Regions from separate parts of the Homo sapiens genome. Here region 2 is linked to region 1. The links come from fine-mapping of genetic effects on gene expression. A gene starts in region 1. The other region holds a variant in brackets. All regions are shown on one strand. Distances are from middle to middle. Region 1 holds the start of CAVIN4 (caveolae associated protein 4). Region 2 overlaps MSANTD3-TMEFF1 (MSANTD3-TMEFF1 readthrough).

What was found.
Region 2: its variant is fine-mapped to the expression of CAVIN4 in stomach (GTEx, PIP above 0.99).

The regions. Positions count from the first base shown.
Region 1 is chr9:100,570,919-100,582,937 of GRCh38, forward strand. It overlaps CAVIN4 (caveolae associated protein 4), which reads left to right and starts at 7,161. Exons shown (of 2, transcript NM_001018116.2): 1 at 7,161-7,633. The coding sequence starts at 7,226. It overlaps MSANTD3-TMEFF1 (MSANTD3-TMEFF1 readthrough), which reads left to right. Exons shown (of 10, transcript NM_001198812.1): 9 at 1,600-1,758; 10 at 5,598-6,718. The coding sequence ends at 5,682. It overlaps TMEFF1 (transmembrane protein with EGF like and two follistatin like domains 1), which reads left to right. Exons shown (of 10, transcript NM_003692.5): 9 at 1,600-1,758; 10 at 5,598-6,718. The coding sequence ends at 5,682. It also overlaps the pseudogene RN7SKP87.
Region 2 is chr9:100,484,754-100,496,772 of GRCh38, forward strand. The region is part of intron 1 of MSANTD3-TMEFF1 (MSANTD3-TMEFF1 readthrough); the gene reads left to right. All of the region lies in intron 1 of TMEFF1 (transmembrane protein with EGF like and two follistatin like domains 1), which reads left to right. Among named protein-coding and RNA genes, the nearest start is that of TMEFF1, 18 kb to the left of the region's middle. RefSeq lists an enhancer at 7,212-7,712. The variant T/C (reference allele first, on the strand shown) is at 5,777.

The DNA.
Region 1 (12,019 bases):
ATACATTTCACTGCTGTCAGCTTAAAAATGTAAATTGTCTGTTAAGTGTCTTAAATATTTCTCCCTGTCAAATTATCATCAGCTGATGCAGTTGTCTTTTTATCTACTTTTAATTGGAATTCAGATAATTTCCAAGATTAGCACCTACAGCTTACCTCCTTGACTGCTTGACATTGTTTCTGTTATTAATAACTTATTTTCATCTTCCCCTTGCATCTTACATGTTTATATTTTATACACTGAAAAGTGTCTTGAATATAATTTGGTGCTATGTTCAGAGGACTGTAAATGTTTATACCTATTTTTTCAATAGTCTTAATTTTCAGGTACTTAGCCCTAAGGAATAACACTAAATATAGAAAAGCGCATATTCACCAAGATGTTTACCACATCTAATTTATAATTGTGAAAAATTGAAAATAACTGACATGTCTTAGAACTGGGAATAGATAATGCTAGCTATATTATAGTCACTGGATGGAGTATTATATTTCTGTTTTGAAATTATATGTATCTATTTTGAAAAAAATGCTAAGAGAGTAGATTTTAAGTGTTCTCACCACAGACATGATAACTATATGAGGTAATGCATATGTTAATTAGCTTGATTTAGCCATTCCACAATGTCTATACATTTCCAAATATCATGTTGTACATCAGTGGTCCCCAACCTTTTTGTTGCCAGGGACTAGTTCCGTACAAGACAGTTTTTCCATGGACTGGGGATTGGGGGTGGGGGTGATGGTTTGGGGATGATTCAAGTGCATTACATTTATTGTGCACTTTATTTCTATTATTATTACATGGTAATACTTAATGAAATAATTATACAACTCACCATAATGTAGAATTGGTGGGAGCTCTGAGCTTGTTTTTCCTGCAATTAGACAGTCCCATCTGGGGGTGATGGGGGACGGTGACAGATCCTTAGGCATTAGATTCACATAAGGAGCACTCAACCTAGATCCCTTGTGTGCGCAGCTCACAATAGGGTTTGCGCTCCTATGAGAATCTAATGCCAGTGCTGATCTGACAGGAGGCGGAGCTTGGGTGGTAATGTGAGTGATGGGGAGTAGCTGTAAATACAAAGAAGCTTTGCTTACTTGCCCACCACTCACCTCCTGCTGTGTGGCCTGGTTCCTAACAGGCCATGGACCAATATCTGTCCATGGCCCGGGAGTTGGGGGGGATCCCTGTTGTACATGATAAATATACGTAATTTTATTTGTCAATTTTTAAGCAAATTTAATTTAAAAAGTGAAAAAAAGGAGTAAATCTTTGTGGCTTTAGATTAGGCAATAATTTCTTAGATATGACACCAAAAGCAAAAGCAACAATAACAAAAAAAGATATACATTAACAATATTCAGCAACTTTAAAATTAATGTGATATAACTTAGGTGAAAGACGCACCATGTAGGCATATCAGAAAGACAGTAGGGAAACATACAAATGACATTTTTCCCCCAGATGGTAGGAAAGTGCATGATATCCTATTCCTGTTTAAATTTTATTACTATTTTGTATTTTTTAATGTAAAAGCTTGGGAGTATCAAAATTTGTAATTTTCATAGGAATATATATATTTTTCCTTTTCAGATGTGAATCTGGCTACACTGGACAGCACTGTGAAAAGACAGACTTTAGTATTCTCTATGTAGTGCCAAGTAGGCAAAAGCTCACTCATGTTCTTATTGCAGCAATTATTGGAGCTGTACAGATTGCCATCATAGTAGCAATTGTAATGTGCATAACAAGGTAGGTAATGATGTAAGAAATATCAACTTTAAATTAGAGGCAGGCAACTGTTTATTTATAGATGCTTTGAGGCCACCAGTCTATTAGGAAAAATCTTATGATCAGTTCCCTGAGGTTTTCAGTGGTCTCTCCCTATCCTTCTTCTTTAGGATACGGGCAGGGACTAATTCCCAGTCTTACAGGTATATCTGGGCGACAAGCAGAGAGGGAATGAGAATAGTCAATGAGATAAAGGAATTTAGGGATCTGAGAACTGTATACAGTCTTTGAACACTGTATTCTGGGAAAATAATGTTAGTAGCAATCTTTTTTTTTTTTTTTTAAGAGACAGGGCCTCACTCTGTTGCCCAGGCTGGAGTGCAGTAGCAATTAGAGCTCATTGCAGCCTCAAATTCCTGGGCTCAAGTGGTCCTCCAGAGTAGCTGAGACTATAGGCGTGAACCACCCTGACTGGCTCAGAATTTCTAGAATGATCTGCACATGCATAGGAGATCCATGCAGAAGATTTTTAAGCCCTGCACAACTGCAAGGGGTTCTGTGCCCTAAGAACGTACTTTACTCACAGTTAGTATAGTAAGAAAGGAAGAAATCAGAGGCTGAAGATAGTTTTATTGTGATATCATGGTGTTAACATTACTTCATTTTCAGGATTGCAGCGATAAGTAATAAGCTTTAAAATTCTGTATTATAAATAAAATTATTCGTCATAAATTAAATGACTTATTTGGAGTGCAGTGGCATAAAATGGGTCTTTTCTAAACTGAGTAGAAATACATAAGTCAGACTGAACTGGGCCTGAGAAAAGTCAGAGTAAATCCAGCAAGTTCGTGTTGTCTTTGTGCTTCCCAGTCTAATGCTTTTCTTCCTGCTTACCTCTTTCTTTAAGCTTCAGTTCAGAAGTCTCATAAGCATCATTTCTCCACTTCCCTGCATTATTCTGGGCAGAGGGTTGAAGCATATCAAATACAGATATTGGCAGGCCATAATGGATTTGTGGCCCTTCTATCCAAGGTCTGGATAGAAGCCAGACCTTCAGTAGTCTCAGCCATCTGGAGCTGAGATGATAAATCTAGAAATGATAAAAAAGAAAAGGTTCTCCAAGTAACAGATATTTTTCATAACACCTAGGCATGAAAGTCAGTGCGCTTTATTTCACAGAACAGATGATCTGCCCTTAGGCAAGACTACTGAATATAAAATTGGACGGTAGATCAAAGTAGGGACATAATCATGTAACAAATAATGATAACAGAAAGAGAAGATAGGGAAAACACATTTAACAGCATGACTGGCTGTAGCCATTTAATATAGACTCAGAGGTTAAGTAATTTGTCTGTGGTCATCCGACTAGTAAGTGGAATTGTCTGGATTTGGATTCAGTTTGATTCCCATTCATTCTTTACACTGAAAGGTTCCATGTTGAGTCATCTTGGGAAACATGTTTGCCCAGTATGACCATTGCATGGGAGCAGGGTTCAAACTTGATTTTGTAGCAGTTTAGGGTTTTTGAGCAGGGGAAGGACTTGGTATAAACCATATTTTTCAGAGTATTAATGAGTCATCTGAAAAATTCATTGGAGTAGTGAACATATGAGGTAGGGGGAAGACCATTTAAGTCATTATTAGAGTTAAATAGGAGTGAGGTAATGAATGATTTGGAAGGCAGAAGGAAAATTAAGGTAAAGTAAGGGGAGATGTTTGAGGCCTGGAGATAGTGCCTTTATTTGAGACAGGGTCTCACTCTGTCATTCAGGCTGGAGTGCAGTGGCATGATCTTGGATCATTGCAACCTCCACCTCCTGGGCTTATCTCAACCTCCCGAGTAGCTGAGACTACAGGCATGCGCCACCATGCCTTGCTAATTTTTGTATTTTTTTTTTTGTAGAGACTGGGTTTGGCCATGTTGCCGAGGCTGGTCTTCAACTCCTAGGCTCAAGTGATCCACCTGCCTCGGTCTCGCAAAGTGCTGGGATTGTGCCCAGCCAGATAGTGCCATTTTTAAGAGGATCAAAGGATGTCAGAGTCAATGAGAAACAATTCTGAGTTCAACCCCTTCATTTAGAGAAGTTGGGAAACTGAAGCCCTGAGATAAGAAGTACCTTGGTCTAAGGTCCTAGAGCTAGGAAAGCCCCCTTACAACAGTCTTTTACCCAACTCTTTCAGTGCTATAATGCTCAACTACTCAATTAAAATTACCTGGCAGGCAGTTTTGAAGTAGGTACCCTCTAGTTTATACTCCAGATCCCTCCTTGTTGCCCTCACAGCCACTTAGACATCACAGTGTATTTCTAACTATGTCACAGTGTCTTTACTGCCCACTGTCTCTACGATTGAAGAGTCATCTCATTGAATTTATCACAGATTTCTCCTGGAGGCCTGTCTTTTTATTATGGTATTTCCTCCCCTAGAATGTCTTGCTATCTTGGATTTAGAACATTTATGTACTTGGATTTATTTCCATTGAGTTTTTAAGTATCTCTCCCACACAGTCCATTATGAGACAGCTGTTGACATATACCGTGGCGGCTGTCACATGGGAGGAATCTTCTTTAAAAGGATGTTCCCACTGACCTGTTTATCAAGACTGCATGAGTCAATTTTTCTTTTTTTCTTCTTCTTGGAATCGCCTTTCATATTTTCAGACTCATAGAATGACAGATTGTCAGGAACCTTGAACATCACCTTAACTAAACGCCCTGATTTTATGGATTTAAAAACCATGGCACTAGGAAATTGGAATTTTTCCAAGGTCATGGTGAGTTAGTGACAGTACAAGAGGGTTGCTTGATCTGTCAGCTAGTTTTCTCATTTATGAAATGGAGATGATTCCAACTCTGTCTACCTCACACTTTTAAAATGAGGATTAGTGAGGTAAAACCATATACAAAATGGAAGTATTGTCAACACTTTTAGTCAAGGCAAAGCTGTACTCTTTGAAATCGAACGAAATGAGGAGTACTCATTGTTATAAGACTTTCTTTCCATTAGGTTGTAAATTTCTTGCTGGCAGAGATTTTGGAAGCTAGTCCAACTCCTAATTTATTTTTTACATATAGGAGAATTGAGGTTGCACAGTTAGTTATTAGCAGAGCCCAGAATTCGTCTTAGCCCCCTTACTCCACATTGCATAGCACAGCATCTTGTGTTTGCAATCTAGTGTGCAGGCACAAGAGCAGTTCCAACCCAGTGAGATTTGTACTGCTGTTGAGAAACGTGGTAAAATGAGAGCAGAGTTAAAGAATGTCCCTTATCCTCAGTGTGGCAGTTCCTTATGGGCTTCTGTGGTTTGCCCCAGGAGGGTGTGGACAGCTTCTTTTGAGTCATTGTCTAAAATCAGTAGACATTCCTATGTATTCATAGCTGAGGTTAATAAGCACACTTCTTCCTGATTTCTCCCTTCATCTAAGCTCTTCTTGTCATTTTAGAGCTGTCTTCTCATAATGCACAGGGAAAGTACATAGGCCAGAGTCCTTTCTCCTGTCAGGGGTTTCATGTTATCAGTCACTGTGACTAGGGAGTTTCTAGGCTGGAGGAAGGGTGGGATATCTGTCAGGGATGCATACATAGTAGCATAGACACTGGTAATGAGTTTTGCTTGTGCCAGTACCTATATTACATATCTAATCCTCTCAACTTCCAGGTTTGTAGAGGAGGTAGCAGTCTGAATTGTGTTCATCTTCATCTTGTCTTGCAACAGATACCATCTCATTTCCCTTTCATGTAATTGCTTGCAATGTGGCTTTATGTGCAAAATGTGTATTACTTTGGAAACATTTGAAATATCCTGAACAAAATCATCAAAACAATATTTTTCTCTCTTTCTTTTTTTAATGCAACAGAAAATGCCCCAAAAACAATAGAGGACGTCGACAGAAGCAAAACCTAGGTCATTTTACTTCAGATACGTCATCCAGAATGGTTTAAACTGATGACTTTTATATGTACACTGACCATGTGATGTACATTTATTATGTCTTTTTTTAAAGAATGGAAATATTTATTTCAGAGGCCTTATTTTTGGACATTTTTAGTGTAGTACTGTTGGCTCGTATTTAGAATATTCAGCTACGACAGTTTTGGACTGTTTAGTAGTCTTTGTTTTATGTTTTTAAATACAGAAATTGCTTTCACAAATTTGTACCACATGGTAATTCTAAGACTTGTTCTTTACCCATGGAATGTAATATTTTTGCAAAGATGGACTACTTCACAAATGGTTATAAAGTCATATCCACTTCTTCCACAATGACCACAGCAAATGACCAAGCATGAACTAAAGGTAAAGATGTTTACAGATTACTTTTCTTACAAAAAAAATCTAGAAGACACTGTGTTTAAATAGATATTTAAATGTTTTTGAGATTTAGTAACTGATTTTTTAGACACTGCCTATCGCATGAACTGTAAAGCTGTGTGTATTAGGTGTAAAATATTTATAAGATATATGGACTGGGGAATTTGATTATTCCTCCCTTTGAAAAAATAGTCCTAATAATTTGAACAAATATGTTAGTAATGATGGAACAGATCAATGAAAAGTAGATATAGATATTGTGAAAATAGGCTGTTTAACAAACAGATTGGAATAAAGCCTATTCTACCAGTTAAACTACTTTAATACACATTCATTTTTAAAGAAAATGTTTGTTTTAACATAAATAAACAAATCGTATCAGTGTTTGTGAATAAAATACAAAAATGATTGTTAATGATTGGTGCTCTTAAAGTGAGCTTAAAATTTATCCAAGACGTATATCCAAATTTGTCCTGTAGTAATAGATTAATATTCATAGATTGTTGGTGTTTAAAGATCTGAAGTGTGAGTAGAATGTATTCAGCTGTTTAACATGTAGTTTAGATATTCAAAAGTATGCATGTAGAATTTAAAGAATATGTTAAAAATTATTAATTTTAATATTTTGTTTGGAAAAGCATGTTATAATATAATGTTTTCACTATATGGCCTCTGTTTTGGTGTGTTTATTTACCAAATTTTTTGATATTGGTGTTTCAGTATATTTAATATGTGAAATTAGTAGAAAAAGCAGATTTCGGTTCAGAATTCCCCTTTACTGTTACAAATACTGATTGAAATTATCTAAAGGCAAAAGCTTTACCCAACATTTGGAGTTTGCTTTTTTGATCATTTGGCTTCTAGGTTTAATATTAGTTACATGGTGGCTTTAGTGAACTTTTTTAAAAAGCTTTACTCTTCTACCCACACAGTCTTATTTGAGTCCCTTAGTCAGTCAGCAAGCATGTTTGGAACAGTCCCCGGTGCTTTGCAAGGGTTCAGATTGCAGAACAGTCACATATGGGTATTTGTAGTTATAAATACTTGACCGTTCTCTAGGGGTGGGGTTTCCAACTCTTTAAACAACCCTGTTGCCTGTTATCAAGCTGACTTTTTGCTCCAAGTGCCAGAATTGATTGTGGTTAGGACATCTTACGCTGAGAAATAAATAAAATGGAACATAATGGGTCTGCTTCAAATGCTGATAAAATCCACCAGAATCGCCTGTCGAGTGTTACAGAAGATGAAGACCAAGACGCTGCTCTTACCATTGTGACTGTGCTGGACAAAGTAGCCTCCATCGTGGACAGTGTGCAGGCAAGCCAGAAGAGAATAGAAGAGAGACACAGGGAAATGGAAAATGCCATAAAATCCGTCCAGATTGACCTGTTGAAGCTTTCACAGTCGCATAGCAATACAGGGCATATCATTAACAAATTGTTTGAGAAAACCCGAAAAGTTAGTGCTCACATTAAAGATGTGAAAGCCCGGGTGGAGAAGCAACAAATTCATGTTAAAAAAGTTGAAGTCAAGCAAGAGGAAATAATGAAGAAAAACAAATTCCGCGTGGTAATATTCCAGGTAAGCTTGCACTTGTGTTCAGCTTGCTTGTTCTAATCTCTTGCATCTTTTAATTGCCAAAAGTCATATCAGAGGTTTCCAGTGTCACATCTTAACTATTGTATATATTAATACAATGGAGTTCTGTATTAGCAGCAATCTCAGGATAAAACCATTTCTCTGTTAACCAAAGTACTATCTGTCATTTCGGTATTTTGAGCTTCTCAACCATTTCATGTAATATGAACTGTGGCTCATAGCTTAGGCTATTTCTTGCCTTTGAAACTTAATATTGGTAAGGCCCTTTCAGCATATTAGCCTTATTAGCATGAAGCCCTCTCATAGACTTTGAAAATGTTAGAACTAGAAGAAGACTCAGAAGCCTCTAGTTTAAAACACTTCTTTGTTCTCTAAAAGAAGAAACTGACAACCAGTAGCAGTGGTTTTTTCTGCTTATATGGAGAGCCTGGAAAGGCCTAAACAGTAGATATAAACTTTTCAGAATGTGATTTGTGTATTGGAATTTTTACATATAGATCACAATGATAGCGATTTTCCAATGAACAATGAGGCAATTATTTTTCTTATTATTATAGTAATACAAATATATGAGTCACATAAGTAGTTTCCTATGTTTGATTACAAAGTCTTTTTACTTAAGTGATTTAATATAATATTTTGTGTGTGGCATTGTGTATTGAGCTAAGTTCCCATATTATTCTGCGCTTGGCACTCATATTTTTGGAAATAGGAACATATTTATGGCAAATGCATAATATCTATGGTATATTTTCAAAACTCTTACAGTTAAAAGGAAAAAAATTGAACATTCCTTCACAGTAGAAAAGTGGGAAACTGTCATTATCAGGCAGTTTACAAAACACAAATAAGAATAAAATTCTAATTTCACCTATTTAAATGTTGGCAGTTATTAAAACCTATACCCAGAGGTTAATTTAAGGATTGGGAAAAAACACTTTCATATTCTGTTGGTAGAAATATTAATTGATAAAACATTTTTGAAAGGCAGATTTGGTAGTATGTATTAAGAAATTTAAAAATTCACAAACTTTTTGGCCCCAAAATTTATGTCAAAGAATTTGTTCTATGCATAAAATCAGGAATGTGTGTAGGAATGTTCACTGATGCATATAAAGTGTTATTTTTAAAAATGACACCTGTATTTTAAAAATGAGTACTTATGTACATAGGAAAAAAACTAGAAGAATATAAACTAAATGAAATAGGAACACAGTTGGATTATGTAGAGGATAATTTGTAAAACACGAGGGATGTGGCCCATAACTCCCCGTGGCATTCTTTACACATTAGGCAATTCTCCATAGCCCTCTGTTGACTGATAAGGTTACACTGGGATGGTGGAGTGGTATTTTAGGTCTGTTTTTAAGAGCCTGTAGGTTATTTAGGAAAAGTAATAGGAGAGTGAAGAGTTGCTTATTTCAAAGGTAGATAGGGCAGACTATGCTATTTGAAGTTCTTTATCATTTCCCTTTCCTTTCATGTCCCTGGAAGTCCTTCTATAGGCTTAAAAATTTGGGAAAAAAAAAAAAAGCCTGGGCAATGTGGCAAAACCCTGTCTCTACAAAAATAGAAAAGTTAACCAGGTGTGTCGTCGCGTGCCTGTGTTCCCTGCTACTTAGGAGGCTGAGGTGGGAGGGTCACCTGTGGGGAGGTTGAGGCTACAGTGAGCCATGATTGTGCCACTGCACTCCAGCGTGGGTGATAGTGAGACCCTGTCTTAAGAAAAAAAATTGAAAAATTGAAAAAAAATCAGTCACCTGATTTTCAGAGGCCAGTTCCAGTGTTAGTATATGTAGTGGGAAATGTAGTATCCATTCTTTGATTTGCCTTCTGAAGATGTTCAGAATTGTGGGTATATCTTACCCTCCACTGGCATGGGCGCATGGCCAGGAAACATATTTGGCATTCACGACTGCTGAGAACTTTTGTGCAAAGCAGTGGACTAAGTGCCAATTAAGATTTACAAAAGCAAGAGCAAAGAAGTTTCTGAAAAGTTTCCATTGACTCTGTTGATTGACATAACTCTTCTTTAAACTTTAAGATGTTTCTGTATTCACCTGTTTAGTCCCTGTAACTTACTGCTAATTGTTCCTTTCTTTGATCCCTTGTAGTTATTTAAAGCAACTGAAGGGTGCTAGTTTAGGGCACATCTCTTCTCTTGTAAGAAATAATGCCATGAAGATTCTGCATAATTAAGTTGTTCAGAGTAGCAGCAGTTCGTCAAAAAGTAATTGCTATCATTTATAATGGAACAGCTCGTAGAGAAAAGAATAATGGACATAGAACTCTGATTCAAAGATTCATTAGATGTTAGAAAGCTGTATACATGGTCACATGGTTATTCTTAGCAGTTAAAATTAGTTATAATTAATCATCATAGTTAAGGTATATAAATGGTTATATTGAGATTGCTCCTTCTGCTAAAATTAACTTGAAACCAAGCAATTCAGCCATAGTAAAAATTACCTGCTATTTCTTATACATTTATTATTTCTTTTCGAACATACTATATCTTCACTAATAAGCCTCAGACTTTTGTATATTCAGAATTTCCCTAGCTATATTAGTTTGAGAGCTTGTTTGGAAGTTCTAGCAGGGGAGTGCAGCTGCTTGTATACCCTTGACCAAAGACTGGTCCTCCTCTATCGTGGATGGTCATCCTCTTCGACCAAGCGTGCGGCTTCGAGAGGGACACACATGGAGCGGTGAGGGAGGAAGGGGACACCCACTTAGCCCAGCCAGATCAGCTGAATCAACCCTGGCAATCAGTGGGTTAACAGATGTTGCAGCCAATCGCCCTCACATCCCATAGCTATATTAGTTTGATGTTCAATCCAGCCCACAGTACTCTGAAGCACAGTATTCATTCTGTTACAAAAATGGTCTTTTTACCTGGAGTTTTATATTAAAAGATACAATTATATTTGGAAGTCAACTATAATTCAACATCTACAATCTTCAGTTATTATAACAGTCTATTCACCATTAGCTCATGATGTCGCTGTCTCATTGGAGTTGCAACTAATAGATCTGCGTAACAAGTACTTTTTTCTGACTCTACTCCTGTTTTGTTTTACTTTAAAGCCTGATTTTATATTATTTGTTGTGTACTTAAAGGAGGGTATGTGATTCCTGGGCTAAGCTATATCTGATTTCTTCACAGCAAGATTGTGTTTTTTCCCCTATCTAACAGTAATTAACTTTTGGCTCTTTCGTTTTCTAATTATACCCTCTCAGGCCGTGCCAACCCACATTGTGTTGCTGAAGCTACTCCCTGCAGCAGGTGTCAGGAAAGGAGAGGAATAATTTCGCTGCTTCAAACTGATTCATCAGAGAGCTATGAGACGCCCACCCCTGCCTTTTTTAGCTCCTAGACTCTCTAATCCTATAGCCAAAGAATTTAATTTTAAATAAGTATCCAAAGAAATAAGGTTCCAGGGATATCTTCTTGACTATCAGGCTGATAGGTTTTGGAATATGCATAAATGTGTTTTGTATATATTTATATATTTTTTGATTGAATAGATTTAATCTGGATCTCACGTGGGGGCACAGTTTCTTTTAGAAATTTTAACTCGTGGTTCAGTTAAAAATCTCATGATTTTTCAACTTTTGTCTGTTTAGTTTGAGAAATGCTCCCTATTCAGTTGGGTTCCTCTAGCTGCTGTGGTTGGGCTGGCTCTCAAGGTTTCCAGTGTGTGTCATGTCCCAAATCCAATTCTCATCCTTATTCTTTTGACACATTTGACACGATTGGACCTCTTTCTCTCTCTCTCTCTCTCTCTTTTAAAGAGACAGGGTCTTGGTCTGTTGCCCAGGCTAGAGTTCTACGGTGCAATCATAGCTCACTGCAGCCTCCAACTGCTGGGGGCAAGCCATCTTCCTTCTTCAGCCTTCCAAGTAGTAGGGACTACAGGTGCGCATCACCTTGCCTGGCTACACTTTAAAATTTTCGTGGAGGTCTCACTTTGTTGCCTGGGCTGGTCTTGGCCTCAAGTGATCCTCCCACCTCAGCCTCCCAAAATGTTGGGATTATAGGCATGAGCCACTGCACCCAGCCCCTCCCTTTCTCCTTGAAACTTCTTTCCTCTTGACTTCTGGGGTTACTCCTCTCTTTGGGAGTTCCCCCTGCCTCACTGGCTGATATCTGTCCTTTTTTTTCTTTTCTCATTTCTTCCTTCTACCAGTCCAAAATCCATGCTCTGTAACACCCATATTCAAAAATTCTTTAAAATATTTTTTAATAACATATTTGACAGCAAGACCTAACTTGACCTGAAATTATTCAGTGGAAAAACCTGACCTAAAGTAGCAGGAGGCTATTTCTAGCTTTTATCCCAACTTAGTGTGAATATTCATATTTTT
Region 2 (12,019 bases), 86 kb before region 1:
ATCTTGGCGCCCTGCAACCTCCGCCTCCCCGGTTCAAGAGATTCTCATACCTCGGCATGAGATTCAGGTGCCTGTCACTGCGCCTGGCTAATTTTGTATTTTTAGTAGAGACGGAGTTTCACTGCGTTGGCCAGGCTGGTCTCAAACTCCTGACCTCAAGTGATCTGCCTGCCTCGGCCTCCTAAAATGTTGGGATTACAGGCATGAGCTACCAACCCTGGCCATGATTTACTATCTTTTGCTGTAGATTTGTCTATTCTGGACATTTCATATAAATGGAATCATACAATATGACCTTTTATAATTGGCTTCTTTCTCTTAGCATGATGTTTTTAAGGTTAATCCATGTTGTAGGATGTATCAGAATTTCATTCCTTTTTTTTGACTGAATAATATTTCATTGTCTCGATAATACCACATTTTGTTTATCCATTCAGTATCCATTCATCTGTTGATAGACATTTTTTTGTTTTTACTTTTTGACTATTATGAATAATGCCACCATGGATATTCATGTACAAGTTTTTGTGTAAATACATTGTTTCATATCTCTTGGGTGTATGTATTCCACCTAGGAGTGGAATTCCTGGGTCACGTGGTGACTCCATGTTTAACATTTTGAAGATTTGCCAAACTGCTGTCCATGTAAAACTCTATGTTTAACATTTGAGGATTTGCCAAACTATTGTAAATGGTTGCAGCATTTCACATTTTCATCAGCTATGTGTGAACATTCCATTTTCCACATCCTCACCAACCTTTGTTATTGTCTTCTTTGTTATAACCAACCATCTTCATTTAAGTTCCTATTTGTTATCCTTCATTTTCCCTATATATGTGGTTTCTTTAATGGAATTTAAATTCTCAATTTCTTTTAAGCTGGATTGGGAGATAACTTCAACCTATTTATCCCCCTTCATTTTTTACATTGTTAGAAACATTGTCTTAACTTAACTATTTTCTTTATTCATATAATTCTATTATTAGCTTCTTGAGCATTTAGGGGCTTGGCATACTTCTCATGTACTTGGAAATTCTATACTTAAATCTGAAAATTCTCTCCGTATATGCTTTTAGTTTATTAGGTAACTTAATTTATTGTAATTCCTTTGCTACTATTCAAATTCATCTATTTTTTAAAAAGTATCATGTATTTTCCATGGCTCAGCAGCCTTGTCATTTTTTCAGAAGTCATTTAAGGTTCTAAAGTTCTTAACGTATTCTTGTACCTTTAAAAACTTTGGCAGGTTATTATATTTTCAACCACAGCTCAATTTCTCTCTCTCTTTTTTTTTTTTTGCAAATATTCTGAGTCTGTCTTTTCCATGGATTAAAAAAGGGAAAAAACCCACACCTTTTTTCTTTGTTATAAGAGCAGTATATAATCTGTGTAGAAAATTTGAGGAATATGGAAAAATATGAAGAGGAAATCTGGGATAATTGCCATTCTCTTCTTTAATCTCAGTGTTTATGCTAAATTATTTCATTTTTCATCAGAAAATTTTTGAACTTGAGTTTTGCTCTTTTTGCCCAGGCTGGAGTGCAATGACGTGATCTCGGCTTACTGCAACCTCTGCATCCCAGGTTCAAGTAATTCTCCTGCTTCAGCCTCCTGAGTAGCTGGGATTACCGGCGCGTGCCACCATGCCCAGCTAATTTTGTATTTTTAGTAAAGATGGGGTTTCACCATATTGGCCAGGCTGGTCTTGAACCCCTGACCTCAGATAATTGGTCCGCCTCGGGCTCCCAACGTGTTGGGATTACAGGCGTGAGCCACAGCACCCGGCCTGAACTTTTAAAAAAATATTCATGTTGTTTTGCTTTGCATTTTCTGTTTATGCTGGAGCCACTGTTGTTCAGAGGTCAGATCTCCTTCTGGGATGTTTTATTTTTATTTTTTGAGACAATGTCTCCCTCTGTTGTCAAAGCTGGAGTGCAGTGGCATGATGGCTTACTGCAGCCTTGACCTTCCAGGCTCAATTGATCCTCCTACCTCAGCCTCCTGAGTAGCTGAGACCACAGACGTGTGCCACCATATCCAGCTAATTTTTAAAAATTATCTTTTGTAGTTACGGAGTCTCTCTATGTTGCCCAGGCTGGTCTCGAACTCCTGGGCTCAAGTGATACTCCCGCCTCAGCCTCTCAAAGTACAAGCATGAACCACTGTGCCTGGCTAGGAATTTTTAAGTTCAGTTTATTTTTGCCTTGTCAGCTTTCATTTAATATTGTTTTGCACGTGAAACTAAACTGCTGATGTTGCTGTATCAATTCTGTTGTTTATAGCCCAGTTGATATATTTAGATTCTTTATTGTTCACAAGTCAGCTCAATCTTTTAGTGTCCTGTATTCATTTTCTATAGCTTTTTTTCTTCTTTCTCTTTATTTTATTTTTTAAAAAATTTTTAATTTTTATTTATTAGTATTTTTTGAGGCAGGGTCTCACTCTGTCAGCCAGGTTGGAGTACAGTATCACTATCTTGGCTCACTGCAACCTCTACCTCCTGGGTTCAAGCAATTCTTGTGCCTCAGCCACCTGAGTAGCTGGAATTACAGCTGCCCACCACCATACCTGGCTAATTTTCTTCTGTATTTTTAGTACAGATGGGGTTTCACCATGTTTGCTAGGCTGGTCTCGAATCCCTGGCCTCAGGTGATCTGCCTGCCTTGGTTTCCCAAAGTGCTGGGATTACAGGCTTAAGCCACTGCGCCCAGCCTCCTTCTCTCTCTAAAGTGGTTTGAGGTGTTTTCTAGGTGGTACACTTGTGTTTACCATTGTTTACTTCAAGGTTATACCATAAGCACATCCTAATTCCCATTTATTTAGACCTAGTTTTAAAAAAATTATTCAATGTTTTACAACAAAATTTGTCGGGGTTTCTGGTTATGGTAGTGTCTTTTTAAGTTTGTTTTTGGTGGTTTCAGCCAGAGTAACAGTCAGTTTTCTTCATAGTTTGCAGTGTTCTTTTATAAGGATCTCTTATAACCATTGGAATCCTATAAGGGATTATTATACTCCTTTTTTTTTTTTTAAATTCTAGGAAACTGGGATTCTCAGATTTAGCACTTGGTCAAGATCATATAGTTACTTTTACTTAATCAAATAATTGGAACCCCAAGTCTGGAACTCTTTCTAATGCACCAGAATTTTGTGAAGTCTTTAAAAAATTATCTTTTAAAATCATTAATACCAGGTTTTTCAGTGCCAGTATGCAAGTTGCTGTGTAGATTTTCATCTTTGTGGGTGATTTCCCTGGGTTCTGGCTACCTCCTATTCTACTTAGTGTTGCAGACACTAAGGGATAGTGGTTAGAAATAGAACCAGAGGACATTGTTCTTGTGTTTAGATTAATTATTGATTTAAAAAACAGTTTAATGAAGGAAATGTATTGAGTATACCTGCAAAATCTTATATATGTAAACCGGCATATGTTTCAAAATAATGGGATTATAACTGTATGTATAGTTTTACAATGTGTTTTTTTTCACAATAGGTCTTAGTTGTCTTTTCATATCACTACATGTGTTTCTACCAAAGTCTGTGTAGTATTATGTCAATAATTTAATTCCCAAAAGATAGACATTTAGATTGTTTTCTACTTTGGTTTTACAGAAAGTGCTGACGTTAACAATCTTGGACATAGGTTTTTGTATGTTTTTCTTTTATATCTGTTATAGTTTCCTGGAAATGTTGGGTAAAAGGATAAAGACAATTAAAATGGCAATGCATATGGACACATGAGAGGTTGTGCCACTATGTACTTCCACAGTTGGTTTGAGTGCTCATTTTTCTATACTTTCTCCAGAACTGGTGCTAATAAAAAACAATAGTAGCTTACACTTAATAGAGTACTTATTATGTGTATTATTATTTTGCTCTAAGTGCTTTCCATATCTTTAATCCTCCGTCAGAATTTTGAGATAGGTGCTGTTATTGTCCCCATTTTGTAGATGAAGAAATGGAGGCATAGGTGGTAAATTACTAAGCTCACACAGCTGTGATAAGTGGTAGAGCCGGGATGCTGGACAAGGTGGTCTGATGCCAGGGTGTCCCTCTTAAAAAACATATTATAATGCCTGTTTTTAATTTTTTTATTTCAATTTTTCCAAAATTTAAGCAGCATGATTTATATGATTTAAAAATTATTTCTATTTTTTATTGAGATAATTTTCATAATGTAAAATTCAGCATGTTAAAGTATACAATTCAGTGGTTTTCGTACATTTACTATATTGTGCAGTGATCATCACTATCTACCATCTAATTATAGAACATTTCTATCACCCCAGAAAGTTTCTACCTGTTAACAGTCAGTCCCACTACTCCACACCCCCATCCCCTGGTAACCACATAGAGACTTTCTCTGTGGATTTATTTATTTTGGATATTTCATATAAATGGAATAATACAATGTGTAGCCTTTTGTGCCTGAGTTATTTCTTTTAACATAATATTTTCTTTTCCTTTTTCTTTTTTTTGGAGATAAGATCTCTGTTCCCAGGCTGGAGTGTGGTGGTGCAATCATGGCTCACTGCAGCCTTGACCTCCGGCTCGTGATTCTCCTATGTCAGTCCCCCAGTAGCTGAGACTACAGGCATGTGCCACCACGCCTGGCAGATTTTTGCATGGGGGTTTCACCATGTTGCCCAGACTGATCTCAAACTCCTGGGCTCAAGCAATCCTCCTGCCTTGGCCTCCCAAAGTGTTGGGATTACAGGCGTGAGGCACTGCACCCTGCCTACATAATTTTCAAGGTTCTTATATACTGTAGCATGTAATTGTTTTATTTGATTTTAAAAGTAATACAAGTTTGTTGTAAAACTCAATTCAGAAAAATACAGAATAATGAAGAAAGCTTAAATTCTACCGAGAGATAACTGTGGTTCCTATTTTGGTGGGTATACCTTCCAGGTTTTTAAAATAGGCATTAAAAAAAGTTTGTGTTACATACATTTTAAAAAGCCTGACTTTAAATGTGTCATGTCAGGAAATGTAGAGATTTTTCATCATTAATTTTAATAACCGCACCATAACAGATTCAGTTTATGGTTTGCCAGGCTAGTGTCAGAACCCCAGAGATCAGAAACATCCATGAGGAAGAGAGTGTCACAGCTCTGAGATCTTTGGCTAGGATTGGCGAGGCCTGGAAAGACCCTGGGAGACTTAACCACTCAACTCTGTACCCAGGCCTTTTCTTCCATCTGATCTTACAGTAGTTTTTCTCCCTGTCACCTTGCCTGGAGAGTCCTGATACAGGCATTTAGAATTAAAGTAGGCAGCGGGGGAAGATTGCAGGAGTGGGGGTGGAGGATTGACAGGAGCAATGTGGTTTAACAAAGGGTAGTTGGCAGTAGTATGCAAAATGGAATGAAAAATATTGGAGTCAGACGATTGTGTGGCATATGTGAAATTTCTTTCGTTAAGTATAGCTTAGAGAAGTTTTAGCCATCTCTGCAGTTGATGCTTTTTAATATTAATGTAAACTGCTTTTGGTTTTGTATCATAAAATATTAGGTAAAGTTTCTTTTTCCTCCTCATATCTTTATACTAGAAGATAACTAATATGATTAGTAAACAAGTTGAAGAGGATTTAATTTCTAATTTTTCTGATTTCCTGGGACTTGAAGTCAACATTTGCTAAATCTATTGCTTGATTTTATACCCTGAAATGTATTTTCAGTGATTTGTGTCATTAGAGGTGCCCCTCAGATTGGTTGGGAGTTGAAGTCATATCTGGGAAAAGAAAAAAAGTGAATATTTGTTGTATAACTACTTGTT[T/C]TAGGCACGATTGCTTTTGAATACATTATCTAATCATTACAATATCAAAGGAAAGTATTATTCTAAAAGGAGAACTACCACGTGAACTTGGCCCTTCCTGATATCTAAACTTATGCTTCGTCTGTGGTATAGCAAACTGTCTCTGGGGTTGTCTTTGAAATCACATTGAGGTTTTTTTTTTTTTCCCCATTAAATAATAACCAATATAGAAACTTGAAAAGGGGAGAAATCACTCATTGTTTAACTGCTGTAACAGGTTACTGTTACCGGTTTTGTTTATTCCTGGCTGGATTATCTTATATGTATGGTGTGTGTGTGTGTGTGTGTGTGTGTGTGTGTGTGTATGTGTGTATGTGTGTATGTGTGTGTTTGAAATGAGTTTCACTATATTGTCCCGGCTGATCTTCAACTCCTGGTCCTTCTGCTTCAGCCTCCAAAGTAGCTGGGACTACAGGCCTGCATCACAGTGCCTGGCAGGTTTTTCATATAAAATCATAGTCTGTGTATATAGTTTTGTGGTCTGCATTTTCACTTTAACATTAATAAGCTTATTTCCATATTCTATAATATACATCTTTAAATAGCTTTATAATATTCCATAGTTGTACCACACCATTTCCTGGTGTGCAATATTTCAAATATTTAAATATTTTAAATGTTTCTGCTATTTTCAGTATAGAGATCATGGAATTGTTTTGTAGGCAGTTGGGTACATGTTCAAGAACAAACTGGCCTTGTTCTGGGAGTGAAACCATCCAGCAGGGTCCTGTCAGATTGGATTGGTTTGCTTTTCTGAAAAAGGGCAGATTTCTCCAAATACTACTAACATCTAGACAGTCAGTATAAACTCATGACAAATTTTTTTAAAGGACAAGGTGAAAAGTTTGAACATATTCTGTGGGGAGTCAATACAGAATCCAGTAGAGATGAATTAAAGTTTTCCACATGTTAATAAGGCCTTAGGGAACATTAATTTATAGGACTTTCCCCAGCAGTGCTCTGAAGACTGGAAATAGCACTAGCAAAAACAGATGACATGGCTTTAATATGGTTGGGAAAACCAGGTTTGAAGACTCGAAGTGGTGGGTGTGAATGTGAATACTGCCAGAGAATGAACAAAATGAGATGACACATGGGATGGTTGAAGGCAGAACATTTACTATACAGTAGGGATCCTTTTGTCTTGGTCCCATAAGAATCTGGTAGTTATTTGGTTAATTGAGAAAGTTATTTAAAGTAGGGAGTCACAAAAATGATTCATAAGTGCATGTAACATTTTATTTTAACATACACATATTTATTAAATATTTTGAAAGAGGGCCTATAATTTTTCTTTGAGAATAGTTTCTTTCCTTTTTTTTTTTTTTTTGAGACAGAGTCTCGCTCTGTAGCCCAGGCTGGAGTGCAGTGGCACGATCTTACTCACTGCTACCTCTGCCTCCTGGGTCGCAGTTCAAGCAATTCTCCTGCCTCAGCCTCCCGAGTAGCTGGGATTACAGGCTCGTGCCACCACGCCCAGCTAATTTTTGTATTTTTAGTAGAGACGGGGTTTCATCACGTTGGCCAGGCTGGTCTTGAACTCTTGACCTCATGATCTGCCCGCCTTGGCCTCCCAAAGTGCTGGGATTGCAGGCGTGAGCCACCGCACCTGGCCTCCTCTTTCTTGAACAAACCACTTGTATAATGCATTGATAACAAACTCCAGTTTTAATCCCTTTAAAAAGGAAGCTAAAGACTTGTGGATGCAGAATTCTAAATGCAACTGTAGGTTTTTTTTAAAAAGTAGCTCACCTTATTCAAGTCTTTGAGTTTAGTTTTCATAGAAGTAATTTATTTTCACTCATATGAAATGTTGAAATCACATAATTGTAGTAACAACTACATAGGCTGGGTAGCTGACTCTTGAAGCACAAGAACAGCTACCTTGGTTGGAGCTAAAGTGCTCATGGATGTTCTAGAGAGGGCCTAGTAGCCTTGAGAATTCATTGTGCCATAGGCATTGCTCTGTAGGTTTTATAGAGAATGACACACTTTGGTTAATCTGGAGAGTTGATTAAGTTGGAGATAAGTTCTAAGAGTGTTATTGACACGGACTGGGCAGTAGGAGAAGGAAAAAGGAGTGGGTAAATGAAAAGAGGTCAGAAAATTGGGGGGATAATGAAGACTGTTTGGTTACAAGGGGAGGCCAGAAGTGTCAACTGCTCTAGAAGGGTCAAGAAAAGGATTGGAGGATTTAAGAAAAAAGCCACTGGATCTGAGGTTGCTTTGACCTTGAAGAAGAAGAGTTGCTATAGGAAGAAGGAGGAAGTGAGGCCTGCTGGAGGTTAAGGTACTATTAAAGGTGGGGGATTTAACATAAACTTGGAATCAATATATTTAGGTTCCTCTACTGAAATGGAGAATAGCTGTGGCAGTATGTTGAGATCTTTTGAGATTGCCGATTATTTGACTAATTTTCCTTGTAGTGATTGTGTCAGAGAATTAGATGTAAAGTGTTTGCTTTCCCTTTACTGTAGTTTTCAACTGGGGACAGTTTTGCCCCCTTCCCCCCTCTCCCCCCCACAGGATGTGGTTGCTTATGTCCAGACAATTTTGGTTGTCAGAGCTGGTGTGGTCCTACTGGCATCTAGTGGGCAGAGGCCAGGACTGTTGCTAAACAACCTCCAGTGTACAGGATATTCCCTACAACAAAGAATTATCTGGTTCCAAATGTCAATAGTGCCCAGACTGAGAAACCCTGAGTTCTGTTGTAACATCTAATGAAGTTTATTTCCTTTTGGCTCTCCGTGAGTGTTAGCTAACTCATAAGATCCCCAAAACTACCTTTCTTTTTAACGGAAGGGTGGTAGAAAAGTCGTATCATTCTGGAAGGCTGCTGGATCTCATTTTGAATCAGAGCCTGAACCTAGTTGTTGCTGCCAGAAGTTGGGAATTTGGGCAGCTCAGGTTCATAGAAAGCAGAGTTTCTCCCACTAGTGTGTATTGTTTCTGAGCTTTGAAATGTTAATGAAATTCTCGAGACAAGTTTTACATTTTGAGAATTGTGGGGCAGATTTGCAACAAGAGCAAAATATTTTGTTCTGAGCAACTCTTGTGAGTACTTCTTTGTGTAAAACATTTCTATTTGGAGAATTCATTTTTGAGGGCCTTAGTAATGGCTCATCCGTTTTACTGAATTTCCATTTTGGTTTCAGGAAGGCAGGTGGGTAATCATCATAATCATTGACAGGTAGTAGAATGTCCTCTTGATGCCTGGTACTGTACAGAATACTTGAAAACAAAGAACATTCAGAAGATGATCCCAAAATAGATTCCTTCTGTATTGGGTTTAAGCTAAGGCAGTGATTCTGTTCTCAAATTTGTTAGAAATCAGCTGGGTGTGGTGGCTCATGCCTCTAATCCTAGCACTTTGGGAGGCTGAGGTGGGCAGATGGCTTGAGCCCAAGAATTCAAGATCAGCCTGGGCAACATGGTGAACCCCATCTCTACAAAAAATACAAAAATTAGCTGGGCATGGTGGTCCACACCTGTGTTCCCCCAGCTACTCAGAAGGCTGAGGCCCAGCTATTTGGGAAGCTAAGGTGGGATAATCGCTTGAGCCCAGGAGGCAGAGGTTGCAGTGAGCCGTGTTCACACCACTGCACTCCAGCCTGGGAAACAGAGTGAGACCTTGTCTCAAAAAAAAAAAAAAAAAAAAAAAAGTAAGGTGTCAGAGCACCAGCAAGTCATGATTCTCTTGATAAATTTTATCATGTGGTCTCTGATGTAGCACAAAATTTTTTAAGACCATTGCTTAGAAATATTTATCTTATTAAATTTACACACAATCATTCTATTGGAATTATGTTTGCATGTATCAATGGTGTGACCAGTGGTGGCTTATATGATAAGGGCTTTTTAAAAAATGTATTCATTTATATACATTATTTTCTATAATGGTAAGTCTGGAAAGAGGAAATCCACAGGCGGTGTGGTGATTTTATGATTCCTCCATCTTACTGTCTTGCTCCTGGTCTTTCTGGTCTGTCATCTTTTGGCTGCTGCAACTTTAGGCAACAGGTTTGCTCTCCAGTCAAGGAAAAAAACAGAGGAAGAATGAAGGAGGAAGGGACAGTGCCTACATATGAACACAGAGCGAGGGAGGCCAAGAAATGTAGGTTATTTAGTTGGGTACTTTGTTTCCCTGAACAAAATTGGAGTTCTCTAAGTAAGAAGGGGAGAATAGATCCAAGGTAGGCAATTAGCAGTGACTGCTGCAACTACAAAACAATTTAAAATGTCCATTCATGAGCTTGTGACATTCATGACCTGACCTGTGTTCTCATGAAACATTGTTGGAATATTTGTATTAGTATTCCTTACCTATTTGTTGAACATACTTTTGCTGCTAGCCAGCAAAATATCTGAAATCATCTGATGTTAGTTGATAGCCAGCAACAAATCTGAAATAATCTCAGATATTGAAGGTTTAAGAAACATAAATGAAAAAACCCCTTAAAAATGAGAAGTTTTTTTTGTTGATTTTTTTTTCGTTTGCAAATGAGAAAATTTCATATTTGATTTTAATGAAGGCACACCCTAGTCCAGGACACCAGTGTTCCTGAGGAACATGGTTTTGGAACCACTGATATTAATATTGTTTGTGTGTACTATGAAATTACTTTCTCTCTGCTTTCACTTACATTGTTTTCCTAGATAAAAACGTTCTCTTTTCTTTCCTGTCTTTTACTATTACTCATATGTTGTGGGCAATTAGAACATTCTATATTTAAAATATCTTTTCCAAATTCTTTATAATGATCCTGTATTAGCTTTATTATGATAAAAAAGCCTTATTAATTTTTCAAGGTCAATACAAGTCTTGTTTTTTCTGACACTGCACCCTATGCCTCAAATCCAGTTTTGTCCCCTGTCTCTTGAACTCCTACAGCAGTCATAGACTGTATGACGCATTTAGCCCCTTAATTATAGACTGTATTGAATTCATCACTAATTGTTGCATATATTAGCAAGATCATCCCGTTACATTTTTTTCCTGTGTGTCCAAAATTCTTAGCATAGTTTTAAGTACCTAGTAGATGCTTAGTAATGGCTTTCTGATGATAAACTAATCACATTTATGCATGAACACACATGAAACTAGCATGGATTTGATAGCAAGATATGCATAAAATAAAATATGACTAATAACCAGAGTAATCAGAATTTCATGACTTTTACCCTTACCTATTAATGATATAGGACCTCTAGCACCCTCATAAATGCCTCCCTCCAAGATTTATTCCGGGAGTCACCAAATTGTGTTTGATGTGTGCCCACTAATGCATTCCACTGCTACATGACACCTGTCTTTTTCTTCCTGTGCTGTTTGCTGCCTCTGCAGTTGCACGTTGGTACCTCCTGTCAGATATCAGAGGTCTGCCTCTTTGCCCGACACTACCATCTCCTTGGTCTTATGCTATCCTGCTAGATACATTGCTGATATTCAGGGACTGTTGATGTGTCCCAGCTCCTTTCTCCCCATGTATTATGTCTTGTGTGAGCATCAAAGCAGAGCTTATCACTTCGTTTTTAGTGAAAATCATTCTTTAGTTTCTTTGTTGTAGCTCCTCTGTCTCTGTTATGAGTTCTTGGAGCTGGGCTGGAGGAGCAAACCAAGTCTTTAGAAGGGACTGTGCTCAGGATCACTTCTCTTGTTCAAGGCTGTGTTTATGCCAAGTTCTTTTTTTTGAGACAGAGTCTTGCTCTTTCACTCAGGCTGGAGTGCAGTGGCACGATCTCCTCACTGCAGCCTCCTCCTCCTGGGTTCAAGTGATCCTCCCACCTCAGCCTCCCAAGTAGCTGGGACTACAGGCATGTACCACCATGCCCAGCTAATTTTTGTATTTTTAGTAGAAACAAGGTTTCATTATGTTGGCCAAGCTGGTCTTGAACTCCTGACCTCAGGTGATCCACCTGGCTCAGCCTCCCAAAGTGCTGGGATTACAGGCGTGAGCCACCAGGCCCAGCCAGTGGGACCAAGCTTTTCTGCCTCACATTAGCAGGGATGATTATTCCCCTAAAGTATTCTGTAGTCCCTCATACAAACATTCCTTGGGGTTACCAAATGTGACTCCTGGTGGCAGGGATGGTTTAGGTTCTAGCTTGCAATCCACTGTACCTGTAAAGTACAACAGGTAAAACATTACAATTCAAGAGTCTCAAAGTAGCAAATCATAACTCAGAGTATTATCTTGCCTCGCA